Linked DNA regions of Homo sapiens: regions 1 and 3 are each reported to be linked to region 2. Evidence: microRNA targets listed by miRTarBase, many of them from high-throughput screens and not tested one by one. Region 2 holds a microRNA gene; each other region holds the end of a gene's coding sequence.

Region 1 (4,246 bases), not on the chromosome of region 2:
AGGAACAAACTTCTCAGCCCAGAGAATTTGAGGAAGAAAGGGGTGTGTGGGAAGGGTGTTGAGAGGTAAGATTCTCTGACAGTGAACGCCAGACACTAATAAGAGCTGGGGCTGTAGAATCAGTTCTTTCTGATGTTGCTCTTTACCAAATCATTAAACCTCTGTAAGCTTTATCTCCCTTGGCTGTACAGTGTGAGAAGTACCTCTCTCCCTCTTGCGGGGGACGGGAAGCTGAAATGCAGCTGACTTGTGGCCCTGTGCAGCTGCTAACCCATCTCTCCTGGGAATCTCAGCTTGGAGCTAGCAGACATCTAGCCCTAGGGCTCCTGGTGACAGGTCTTTCTTTCCATGAATGAGAGGAGACAGAAAGGGACGGAAGCTGAAAAAGTCTGTCTTTGAGAAACCACACAGAGGCCTTTTCAGGCTCCTTTATCTTGTGATTGCATGTGAGAGCTGTGGGCTCCACCTGTGGCAGCAGATAGGCTGACCGCACTGTGTAGGCTTGCTGCTGTGGTGTGAGGGGACAACAGCAGGCCTTCTTTCAGCGCTCTCCTCAGGGGCCAGCAGGGAGACAGCGATAGGCTTTGACAGTGAGGATCAGGTTAGAAGGCAGGAGATCCAGGTGTCCCTGGTGGATGGTGGGGTTGTCTCGGCTGAGAAACTGCCCTGTGCCTGCCACTCAAAGTTGCCAATGCTTGGTTGCCGTCTGTGCTCTTTGGCAGGGAAACCCTCAGGGAAGAGGAGGAGGAGAAAAAGCAGCTTTCTCACCCAGCCAACTTCGGCCCTCGAAAGTACTGCCTGCGGGAGTGCATCTGTGAAGTGGAAGGGCAGGTGCCCTGCCCCAGCCTGGTGCCATTACCCAAGGAGATGAGGGGGAAGTACAAAGCCGCTCTGAAAGCCGATGCCCAGGACTAAGGCCCACGGTCACTGTGGGCTGGGGTGATGGTGTCTGACCAGTGGGGAGATTGGAATGGGATTACTTTGGCCCAGGGAAGCCCCTGGTTCTGTCCCTGGAGACTCTGGAAATCCTTTTGCATTAAAAGGACTTTACACACCTGTGTAAAAGGATGTGGGAGAGGAGGGTCTGAAGCTGAGCTGCTAAATGAATATCCCTGCTCTGCTGGTCAATAAAACGCTTCCTAATAGCAGCTTGGCGTGTATCTGGTCCTAGTGAAGAGGAAGGCCTGTGTAGCAGAAAGGCTTTGGGCCTGAGAGGTTAAGGCCACAGCCTGTTGACACCTGTTTTGGTCCTGCGACCCTTTACTGGTCTCCGCTGGCTTTGAATCTTCCTCTGGGCTCTACTCTGGAGAACATAAGGGCTGCTGTGGTTGAGTCTGGCTAGCACTGTCTGTGGTTGGCAGTGTGTACACCCCTCCGTTCAGTTCCTTGGGGGTATTTTTCAGAAATCCAAAGGCAACCCTTCGTGCAGTGCTCACTTTTTTAAGTACAGTTGATTACCCTTGCCTGCTGGGGGGCCTAGCCATGGGCCAGAGATGGAGGAGCCCCAGTGGCTGACAGGCCAGCCTCACTCAGGCACGTACCTGCTGACCAGTCAGCCACTGCCAACCCATGGCCCAGCCACTGTGTGCATTAGCAGGGAGGTTTGTAGGCCATGGAGGAAATGAGGAGACACCACCTAGTGGAGACATTGGGGCCCTGCTGGGGGGATGGTGTCTATAGCTGGCTCTGCTGGCTCCCTCAGGCCCTGCTTACCAAGCTCTGGAGGAGGGAGTGCTGCATTACTGAGCACCTTCCTTGTTCTTTCCTCATAGGACACTGATGTTACTGTCACTTTAGTTATGCTAAAGTGGAGGTTTCAGCCTCCAGAAGACAGCAGAGCCTTCTAGGGTCACCTTAAGAATAGGTTTAGCTAGGCTGGGTGTGGTGGCTCATGCCTGTAATCCCAGCACTTTGGGAGGCTGATGTGGGCGGATAGTTGAGCCCAGGAGTTCGAGACCAGCCTGGGCAACATGGCAAGACCTTGTCTCTACAAAAAGTACAAAAATTAGATGGGTGTGGTGTTTCGCGTCTGTAGTCCCAGCTATTTGGGAAGCTGAGGTGGGAGGATCTCGAGCCTGCGAGATCAAGGCTGCAGTGAATCATGATCGTGCGCTACTGCACTCCAGCCTGGGCCACAGAGCAAGACTGTCTCAAGAAAAAAAATTTTTTAAATAAGTTTAATTATAAAGTGAAGGACCAGTTGGACCACGGACCCCTAGAAACTCAGCCAAGGAGACCTGACTTTATCTGAGACAGGAAGGCAGTGGTTAAAAGAATTAAAAAAGGACAGTGGTGCTTGACAGAGCAGGACTGAAGTTTTCATTCCTCTACCTGCTGGGGCCTTGGTCAAGTCCTAAAAGCTTTCCAGGTCTGTAACTGGTTTTGTCTGTAAAATGGGGAAAAGGTTACCTTTTCTGCCACATGAAGTAGCTGGCTGGTGAAATGATGTCATACTACGATGTGTTTCATTAACTGTTGGAGATTATCACATTAAATTGAGCAGATTTGGATCTTTTACATTTGATGCTCAAGTTTGATTCTGTACCAGATCTGGGTTTGGGGTGATGGCTTGTCGGGGGTGGGAGGGGAAGGTGGGCAGAGACTGATGTATAATGGACAGGTGTTCCTTGAGTGACAGACTTACAAAGGGAGTGTTTAATTGAAATCTAGCATCTTGTCTCTCTGCTATCAGCATTTTGGCTGGGTGGAAAAAGCTCTCCTCCACAGAGAGCCCTCCCATGTCTGCTGGTTTCAGTTCCCCACCCAACTGACTGAAGTCTTGACCTTGATACCACCTGCCTGGGCGTTCTACTTGGCTGCAAGGGCTCTTCAGAAAGCACCTAGTTCCTTTTGGCTTTCATCTGCAGTGTAGGTCTCCATAGCTAGTGACACACAAAGCCTTATGAGAGTATTCCTTCCCTCTAGGGCCCAAAGAGGCTGCTAACCAGCAGGAATGTCCTGAACCAAAAGGAGTGGTGACCATTCTCTAGACAGAATAAATGTCTGGTCCCTAATGGGACAGATAACTAGGGTTTGAGTTCAGGCTTGACACAGGAGCAATGGGCAGTGAGGTGGACAGCCCAGACCCTGAAAGGACGTGTGGAGACAGCAGCAGTCCTGTGGTGCAGTTACTGCCTGTGTGGCCAGCTTCACAGGCAGCAGATAATTTGTGGAAATAAACATTATTTTCTTTTTTTGTTCCCTGTAGGCTACTTGATCCTGGATAGTTTCTCTTTAAACCTTTGTCTTTCCCTATTTTGTTTAGTAGTGATGAAAGATGGGTTTAAAATATACAGAAATGGGAGAAAATTAATTAGAGAAAATGTGAGGATTTTATAATTGATAACATGTTCTTAATTTTACTTGCACAAGCAGTGTTCACAGCCTTATTCTGAAGTGACCACTTTTCTTCTCTTTGAGGCACTACCTGGCAGCACCATCTAAACCTGTATCATCTGCTGTGGTCCCAGTTACTCAGGAGGCTGAGGCAGGAGGATCACTTGAGCCCAGGAGGTTGAGGCTGGAGTGAGCCATGACTGTACCACTGCATTCCAGCCTGGGTGACGGAGTGAGGCCCTATCTGCCTGCCAGTGAGTTCTGTCATGCATCAGACTTTGGACCTCAGAATTTTCACCTGGAACATGAGAGGTCAGATGACATAATGAATATGTTCTAACTTCTGAAACTTTTGGAGCTTGTTTTTGCCCTTGATAGCACGTATCCTTAGAGAATAAGCTTGCCAATTTAAGGCCTGTCTGTAATGGCATCTGAATGTTCCAGCAGCCTAACTGTGCTCTGCTCCAGAAACATGTGTGTGGCTTCCCTACCTCCACACCAAGGAGCTGCCTTGCTGGGTGGATGTAAAGACTGTCCTGCCAGGGTTTCCCACTAAAGGTATTAATAAGTCCAGTGGACCACAGAGGGCCCAATCCCTCTTGGCCGCTAAGGCTAAGGTAGGAGCCAGAGAGCTGTAGAGACAGGACCACCAGGATGCTTCATGTCCATAACACAAGAGAGCGCTGCATTGTTTGGGGGCCAGGCATTACTACTATCATGAAGAAAAATGAAGAGCAGGATGCATGTTAGTCTTTAATTCACTTTTAATAGTATAAACCTCATTTAGGTAGTAGTATTAAGCCACAACAATAATGCCACATTGAAACAGCATTTAATAAAATGCATAAAGCTAATTCATGCACTGCAATACTCTATATACAAACACAACAATGCAAATTCTTCTTCAAGA
Region 2 (4,246 bases):
GTTTGAAGTTCAATGTAGTCAAAGTCATGCTTGTCTTTTCTTTTTGCCTCGTTTGTGTTAAAATTGAAAATGTTCTTCATCATTTCAAGGATATTAAATTTTCAACTACGTTTATTTTAGAAAATTTTCAGAAATTACATTTAATTCATTAATATACTGAAATTAAGCTTGAGAACTTGTACGAAGTTCCAGATATTATCTTTTTCTCATTTAGCTAATATTCACAATGCTTTTCCCGCCAGAACGATCCATCTATTAAACATTTTATTCCAAGTGGATTAAACGGTTTCACAATATGATTACATTTTTAAAATCACTTTTTAAAATACTGTGAAGAAAATATTGAACAGATGGATGGCTGATGGTGGGAGTTAGGAGACCATTGGAATAGTCCAAGTAAGAGGTGTGCGTTTCTGGACTAAAGTTCAGTAGAAGTATACAGAATAATTGAAATATTAGCAAGATAAAAAGTGAACATCTTCAGGACTGTGCGATTGTATGTTTAGAAAAGGAGAGGAAGCAAGGTCCAGGAACATGAAATGAATTGAGATTTATGGCTTTGGTTTCCAAGTAGATCAAGAGTGTTATCCCTTGGGAAAAAGATGATACGTTATCTGTAGTCATGGATGGGCTTTGGTCTGTGAGAAGAGCAGAAGACAGATATGTAGCTTTGGGATGTGTAAGCTGGAGATAAAGACTTGGGTATCTGCAGCATCTGAGCAGATGTAAACATCATTCACGTGCCTGAGATTCCTTCAAAGATTGTGAGACAAGAGAAGAGAAAAAAAGCCATAAAGTTAAGAATGGGTCTCAGAAGGATACTGGCATTGGGAGTTCAAGCAGATGAAGAGCTTCTTAAAAATAAATAAATAAATAGGACATCACTGTAATAAAGAGAGAAATCCAAATGAGAGTAGGATCACAAAAGTGAATGGGGACTGGAGTTTAGGAAGAAGTGGTCAGCTGTGTCAGGCATCAAGGGGAGTTCGAGTAGGACAACTGGCAGAAAAGTTTGATTTGTATTTGGCAATATGGAGCTCACTGGTGATTTGGGGAAAAGCAGTGTCATTAGAATGATGTTATGCACAAGTGGGAGAGAGAAATGGTAGAAGATGCCAAATTACATATAGTTGAGGTGAAATGGGAAGTAAACAAATATAGACAGTGCTGCAGGCTACTATGTACTATTTCTAAAATCTTAGCTTTTAAAAAGAAGAAAAGAAGTGGGGTAAGTAACTTGAGGATAAAGCAAGTATAGAGAAGTTTTTCTCAAATTTCTTTTGTTTTCTATTTGAGAAGAGAGAAAACTGAACCTTGTTACATGTGAAATGGAGCCAGATGGTGAGAGAGGAGGGGGATATCACAGGGGAAGAGATGTCCCAAGCAAGGCAGGAGGCTCACGTGAGACAACTCAGGGCAGAATCCTACGCATTCATAGGCTATAAACAAGGAAGTGGAGGGAATAATCACATGGACTCAAGCTTCTCAATGAAAAACAGAAGTCAGTTCATCTGTTGAGAGTGGAATCGTGGAAAGGAGCAGTTGAGGAAAGAGGTAAACATTTAGGCTAAACATGAGGGAGTGGAGTAGAAGAAATGCTGGGTCAGAGTTGAGGGACTGAGGCACTTGGAGGCCCCTGAGTATGTGTATTAATGTGTCCATATGATGATGTGATTTTATTTTTCAGCAACACTGATATTGAAAGGACAGTTGCCTTGGAGATAAGAGAATGAGAAACTAGAATGGTAAGAAGTGATAGACAGAGTGGGATATTAGATATCGAATGTGGTAAAATATTTTAAGGTTATGATGAGGTCAAGAGCCGGGTCCCAGCAATGGGTTTCTGTAATGGGAGTTAAAGGCAAATGGGATTTAAAAGATCAAGGAAAAGAAAGGATAATTTATTTGACCATTAAAAAAAAATGAACATTGAAGCCATCCAGGTACTCCAAACATAGACACTTGAGAAAGCATTTTATTTTGCTATATAATTATTATCATTACAAATGGTAAACTTAAAACTGCTGTGATCAAATTTAATGACAGATGTCCTATATAAAAATGCAGAGGCAAACCACTTAAGAAAAACCATGATATGCATAGGCTTTTACTTGCAAAGTCAGATGAGTAAACATGAGGCAATTAATGGGCCATGACTGTAAGTCTAACCACGCAGTTCATGCACATAGAAAGTGGGTAAAGTTTTAAAGTGGAAATTGAATTGGGAAAATCAATCTACTATATGACTGTCATGAGTGTTCTGATAGTTATATAGTTATGTATATATTATTTTCTTCGTATTTAGCATGTTACATAGCAAGAGGCAGAATTATATGAGCAAATCCTCACCCAGAGAAGCAGAAAGCTAAAATTATCTGGTGTTTCTATCCCACTTTGACCAGAACATCTAACAAAAGTTGTAAAGAACACATATTTGTAAGTGTGTTATTGTCAATGGCATGGGTGCTGAGGTCCTACTTTATGTCTTTTTTTCACTCACACTACAACAGTAGGAAGGTGAGCTAACCTAGATGATGATACTGTACGTTTGATGGACAAAATAGTTTTGCCTTTTCTAAAACATGCTCTGTTTATAGCATACAAAAGATAGAGAAGCATTATTCTTGTTTAAACCAGAGTCTTTTTCATTGAAATCTCATCACATGATATAAATTGAATAAATAAACCAGAAGATGCTGACGAATTGGAAAACTTAAAGAACAATAGTACTATTTTGAACACATCTTTCAAAGATGGAATATCTGTTGATTGTGACAGCAAAAAGCGGGGCCACAGTTGCATTCATTGTTCAGTGAGCTTGTCCACACAGTTCAACCCACCGACAGCAATGAATGTTGATTGTGACCTTTTAAAAAATAATCTCTGCACAGGGAAGAGAAAGTCCTGGTGTGTCCACCTTTGGTTTCCTGTCTTCAGCGAATTCTGAGCACCATGGAGTAGATGATGGTTAGCCATAGGGTACAATCAACGGTCGATGGTTTTGATTTTAATTCCAAACTCACCGACAGCGTTGAATGTTCACTGAAGCAACCTCAAAACTCAGAATTCTACTCACTTTACAGTATCTGTAAGTATCTGAAGGGGATGGGAGACAGAAACAACAGTACCTTTAGTCATATATTTTATGCATTTTTATGCCATTTCAAAAGACTACAAAAGAAGACAAATAAGAAGCATGATTCTTCCAACAAAGAGTTTGGCAAACCTCCACATCACATTGTATGAGAGAAAAGGATCGGTTTCATTAAGCAAAAACATGGCCGATATTGGGCTAGTTCCAGAGATGGAATTATCTCACTGTTAAAGACAGGGACAATTTGTTATTCAAAGTACTTTGTGGTATAAAATCCAAACAATATCTTATAATTTAAATATTGTTACGCTTATAGTAAGCAAGCATTATGTATATAGCTTATACAGAAATTAAACAGAATTACCTTAGATTTCCTCAAATTGGCATTGATGATATCATTTATATTTACATTATATATTTACTATATTTTATTCTAAAATAAGGTTTTAAAATTAGTATAACTTCCTAAGAACAATCTTATTTAGAAAATGCTGAACAAATTATAAGTGAAGAAACCAGCTCAATACATTTTTCTTAGTTTATGGCACAAAGAGTTCATGAATACAGTGAAAGGTAAATACAATCTATGTATGCTACAAAACCGTTCATTTCCTATTATTTTAAATAACATCTAACATCTAACATCTCTTTATGGGTAGATGGGTGAGGGATTCTTTTCATAGTCTTATTTTCTAAGACTGTTTTATCATTAATGCTTATTTTAAAATTATTATGAACTCTACTGAATTTATTTTTAGAGCCATTTTCAATAATTTTCTACCATCAATTAAAACAAAAGTCACCTTGGATGTATCTAAACCAGAATAGAAAGTCATTATTTCACACATTTAAGTTGCATCTAATATGGTTATAGAGTAATTATCTGTAGGAGGGACAACCCACAATAATTTGGAATGCTACTTTGAAGGTGATAATGGTCTATTCAAGTCAAGGCAATTACTCTCGAAATGTTAGTGAAATATGTATCCCAAATTTTTACACATTCTTACATTTCAGTCACTTAGAATTATTTTAAAGCCAATAATTGTTTAACCTTTTAGACAAACTATTTACATGAAAACTTCAACAGATTTTTTTTGAGAGAAACAGGGACTAGAGATCAACTGGAAGTAAATTTTAAAGTGACAAATA
Region 3 (4,246 bases), not on the chromosome of region 2:
GCAGTTAGAATATTTCTTTAAAAACAATGTAAAAAATGCAAAACATTAAGGATCTTCAAAGGCCAAACTTTCATTAATATAGAAAGAATTTTCACTAGAGTTAGGCAGCCACCCCAAAACAGCATGGCAAAATGGCATTGGTATAAAGGAAATAAAATACCACACAAAAATCCAAAACAAAACTAAAAACATTTCAAATTAAACCTGGAAGACTAGAAGATTCCAACAGCAGATTTCTGTCCACTACTGAAACATTCCAAAATCCAAGCTCCAAAGGTGCCTAAATGTATTTTAAATGAAACTTTGTTTTGTTTTTTTAAGAAGAAAAAAAAAAAAAAAAAAAAAAAAAGAAAGCAAGCAAGCAGTCAGTGAACCTGGTTATAAATCCTGCAATATATTACATTTTTTAAAATCCTAGTACAACAAAAACAAATCTTAAATAAAATTGAACAAACAAACAAATAAAAACAGTAGCAGCAGTGGTTACCTGTCTGAGCACCTACATTTTCTTAGGAGGGGATCGTGTCTCACCAGCCAAATAGCCCATAAACCTTCTCAAAAAAAGTGAGCCAGGAGAAAAGTATAACACAAGATTTGATTTCACAATGTCTCTAAGCCCCACAAGCCCCAAACTGGGGATTCACTGAATGAAACAAATTTGCTTCTCCATTGCTTTCTTCTTGAGAAAAAGAGATGATTTTCAAAGTCAATGCCTTCAATATGTTCTCAAAGTCTGATAATGTGCTTGATGAATGCCAAGTCTCTTGTTGGGTTTTTCTACTGTTCCAGGGTAGTTTTCTTATTGGTAACATATACAGGAAGATTTCAATGTTCATTGGAGAAAAGCCAGCAGAAATGACCAATCAATTATAGGCACCAAAAAAGAAAAAAACTATTAAAAATTTTAAATAGAATAGTTCATACTTGTATGTTTAGATATATAAAGTCCAGTTTTCATCATGGGTGACATAAAAACAATATCAGAAATAATCATTTTTGAAATACAATTTAGAATTACAATTTTAACAATATACAAAAATTTTACAATTCAGATTTTATCATTACACATATTTGATATATACATTCTCTCTCATAATAGCAATGAAGATTATACAAAAGTTATTAAACAATTATGAAAATAAGTTTAACCTAAATATCTGCTGCTGTTTGTTTCCTTAAGGTACTTCCAGAATGATTTGCTCTTATTCTCTACCTCAATCTTGAAGGAATTCAAGAAGATATCCATGTTTTTAAAATCTAAGATAACTACTGCTCTTTTCATTCTAACATGTGAGTGTACGTTTTAATATCATGTGAATGCATAATAGTGAATAAAGCTAATGAACTAATTTCACATATTTCCTATAATATAGTTGGTTAATTTGGTATAAGTTAAGAAAAGACTAACTACATTTTTCCTGATGCCTTACCCCACCAACACAAACATGAACTACATACTTGTGATATGTAACTATTCAAAGTGTATGTGTCATAATACACATGGCAACCAGATGGTCTCTATATGAACATATGAATGATAATTTAATTAAGCAGTTCTTTCTTCCTCATTTATTTCTCTATACCAAATAGTATGCATCCTCCACAGTATGGTCATTCAGCGAAAGAAGTACCAAGTATTTCTTTCTGTTAATGAGTCAGAGGTATTAATATATGTATGTGAGTCCCCCATTTACCCTGCGCAAGATAAGTTCTTTTAAATGCAATTAGAATATCCTAAGATAAATTACAAACTCCTCTTATGTATCCTTTTCTCTGAGGTGAAATGAGACACTGCACAGATGAGAGGTACTATTCTATTCATCAACAATCAACCTTTCACTCAATTTTAATATTATTTAATTCTATGGAAAAAACAAATTTTATTACATTCCTTTTTAAAACGGGGGAAAAACTGTACAAGTAAGCATGATCAAACCTCTGTTATAGCTGGTTAATACTGATCTTTTATTATTGCCTCGAAGTCTCTCTAGTAGTGTCCAAGAAATTATGTTTAAGGTCCATCTGAAGGAAAATAGCACTGGAGAGGCAAGAAAGGGCTTGGGTAAAAGCTTCAGAGGATTCGTAGGGAGATGGAAAACTTGCTGTTTAAAAAATTACGTTGGGCTCTGCAGCATCTCCATTTCTTAACATACCATCCAAACCCATCAATGGGATTAGTTTTACCCATGTTTTAAAGGCTCATATTATATGCAGTTTGGGGGCTTTTATAAATTCTGCAAGTAAAGGAATATAAAGAGTGGACAGTATTGAAGGCTTAAGAGTAGGGCTATAAGAGACTCAATACTACTAAATAAGTCCCCAAACAAAAACATCCAACCCACCCCCAATCCCAAATCCTATATGTAAAAAGAGAAAATGCATAGCCAGAAGCATTAAAGAAAAGCATGTAGCCTTGAATAAACTGTACACTGAACAGGCTAGAAACAAAAGGAAAAAAACAAACAACGTACATATACACAAAAAGGCCTAAAAAAGCATCTACTCACCCTATGTTTTAAGGTGAATACCTCTACCCCAGTGGAGTCTACTTATGAAAACAACTCATCTGTTTTTTAAAGTCAAAAACTCTGTTTCCCATCATGCTCCATTTTCTAAATTATCCTTTTTGATTAGTTGATGGAAACAAAAAGCAAAACACATACACATGCATGCGTGCACACACATACACATATACTCCCTCGTAAAATGTGAAAAATGCAAATATATAACGCTGGCATTCGAAATCACTTCAGCTTTATACTTAGAACTCATAGGCTCTTGATTTGCCCCCAAAAATATTTTTCCTTGTCCTTATTTAAATGCCCAACTACCAAAACAAAAAGGGAAAAAATAAAAGGCTTTAAATGTACATGTTTCAAGTCAGTGTCTTGTTAACAAAAAAGGTAGCATTTTCTTCACTTTGGCCATTGTTAAAGATGCAGGCATAGAGCAGGAAATGTTAGACTAGCATGTATTAAAAAAAAAAAAAAAAGCAACATTAACAGAGCACATCTTTCAAAAAAGACTAAAACACTAACAAATACAAGTGAATGCACATATTTTAAACTAGTGTAATTTTATCTACATTGAATTAATGTTATTTTGTATACCGGACATTGCAATACTGTTCATTTCCATTTCATCATGCAAACATGCCAATTTTGTCATTAAGAAGCCTTTATTGGGTTATATTCAATTTGACCTCCCACCAAATTAAGCGGGAAAAAACAAAAAAATAAGAAATCCCAGTAAAAGAGCCCCTCAAGATTTCATAAACTACAAACTAAAGCTGCTAGTTAATAAGGAAATGGCAGAATTTTCAGAGCTGTATAATACAAAAATTCCTGTAATTTATGCAGATGTTTTCCTCACTGATGACAAATCTTCCAACACAATGTGAAGTTATGCTACTTGGATATTTGTAGCAAAACCATTTTTTTTTGTACAAAAACAAAAGCAAGGGACCATGAAAAAAAAAAAGTATTTGTTCCTCATGGCCTATGAGCATACACATTTTTTAGCAATTTAAAAGGGTAACTATGAGAGCCTGACATTTTTCTATACCCCACCTATTCTGCCTCTCTATTTGTAGGATTTGTAAATGAAAGTAACATCTTACTAGCAGAGGTCTCATCTATCTCCCACTCTCTCCAACTAATCCTACTAATTTTCTCTCATCTTCCTGAGCATCCTCCATGAACAGCATTGCAAGTTGGTTTTAAAAATAGAAAAGAAGAAAGAAAGTTTTACAAGGGTTTTGTTGGTTAATTACCAGTGGAGTCAGTCCACCAGTAGTTTGATTTCATTGGCTAGCAGCTGGTTCATGTTGAACAGGCCCCCTGGGAGCTTGGTGAGCAGCTCTCGCTCCGTGCTTTCAGGGTCGCTGTCAACAGAGCTGGAACTTGCACTCATGTTGTCAACAGCAGTGCTGGCTGGGGGACCCAGCTCCGGCTCACTAGTCTCACTGGCAGTGGACACCACGGAGAGCAGGGACATACGCCGGGTGAGCCGGCCAGAGGGTAGAAGGGAGGCGGCATAGTCTGCTATGATACCAGCTACATCTAGATTACAAGCCTTATCAAAGGCGATGAAACCTACATTTGCATTGGCCTCACAGACGCAGAAGGAGCCGTCATCTTTCATCAGCAGATCAATGCCACACACATCCATCCCCAGGATATTAGACACCTGGATAGCTAGCTGCTTCCCTTGTTCACTCAATGAGCACATCATCCCCACACCACCT

What was found. Region 2 holds the annotated microRNA hsa-miR-181b-3p (CUCACUGAACAAUGAAUGCAA, at 2,797-2,817, opposite strand). A microRNA usually pairs through its seed, bases 2 to 8, with sites in the 3' UTR of a target mRNA and lowers its output. Matches are read on the target gene's strand: a 7mer-m8 pairs with bases 2 to 8, a 7mer-A1 pairs with bases 2 to 7 and ends in A, and an 8mer does both.
Region 1: miRTarBase lists MRPS25 as a target of hsa-miR-181b-3p. Seed matches in the 3' UTR shown: 7mer-A1 at 2,093-2,099.
Region 3: the mRNA of RIMKLB is a reported target of hsa-miR-181b-3p. Seed matches in the 3' UTR shown: 7mer-m8 at 3,369-3,375 and 8mer at 640-647.

What each region holds. Positions count from the first base shown.
Region 1 is chr3:15,049,110-15,053,355 of GRCh38, reverse strand. It overlaps MRPS25 (mitochondrial ribosomal protein S25), which reads left to right. Exons shown (of 4, transcript NM_022497.5): 4 at 723-4,246. The coding sequence ends at 915. NR2C2 (nuclear receptor subfamily 2 group C member 2) reads right to left here. Exons shown (of 14, transcript NM_001291694.2): 14 at 4,083-4,246. Among named protein-coding and RNA genes, the nearest start is that of MRPS25, 14 kb to the left of the region's middle. RefSeq lists an enhancer at 2,844-2,923.
Region 2 is chr1:198,856,091-198,860,336 of GRCh38, forward strand. It overlaps MIR181B1 (microRNA 181b-1), which reads right to left and starts at 2,892; the gene lies at 2,783-2,892. The region is part of intron 2 of MIR181A1HG (MIR181A1 host gene); the gene reads right to left. MIR181A1 (microRNA 181a-1) reads right to left here and starts at 3,063; the gene lies at 2,954-3,063.
Region 3 is chr12:8,773,319-8,777,564 of GRCh38, reverse strand. RIMKLB (ribosomal modification protein rimK like family member B) reads right to left here. Exons shown (of 6, transcript NM_001297776.2): 6 at 374-4,244. The coding sequence ends at 3,781. A2ML1-AS1 (A2ML1 antisense RNA 1) reads left to right here. Exons shown (of 2, transcript NR_046715.1): 2 at 1,181-1,354. Among named protein-coding and RNA genes, the nearest start is that of LINC02972, 13 kb to the left of the region's middle.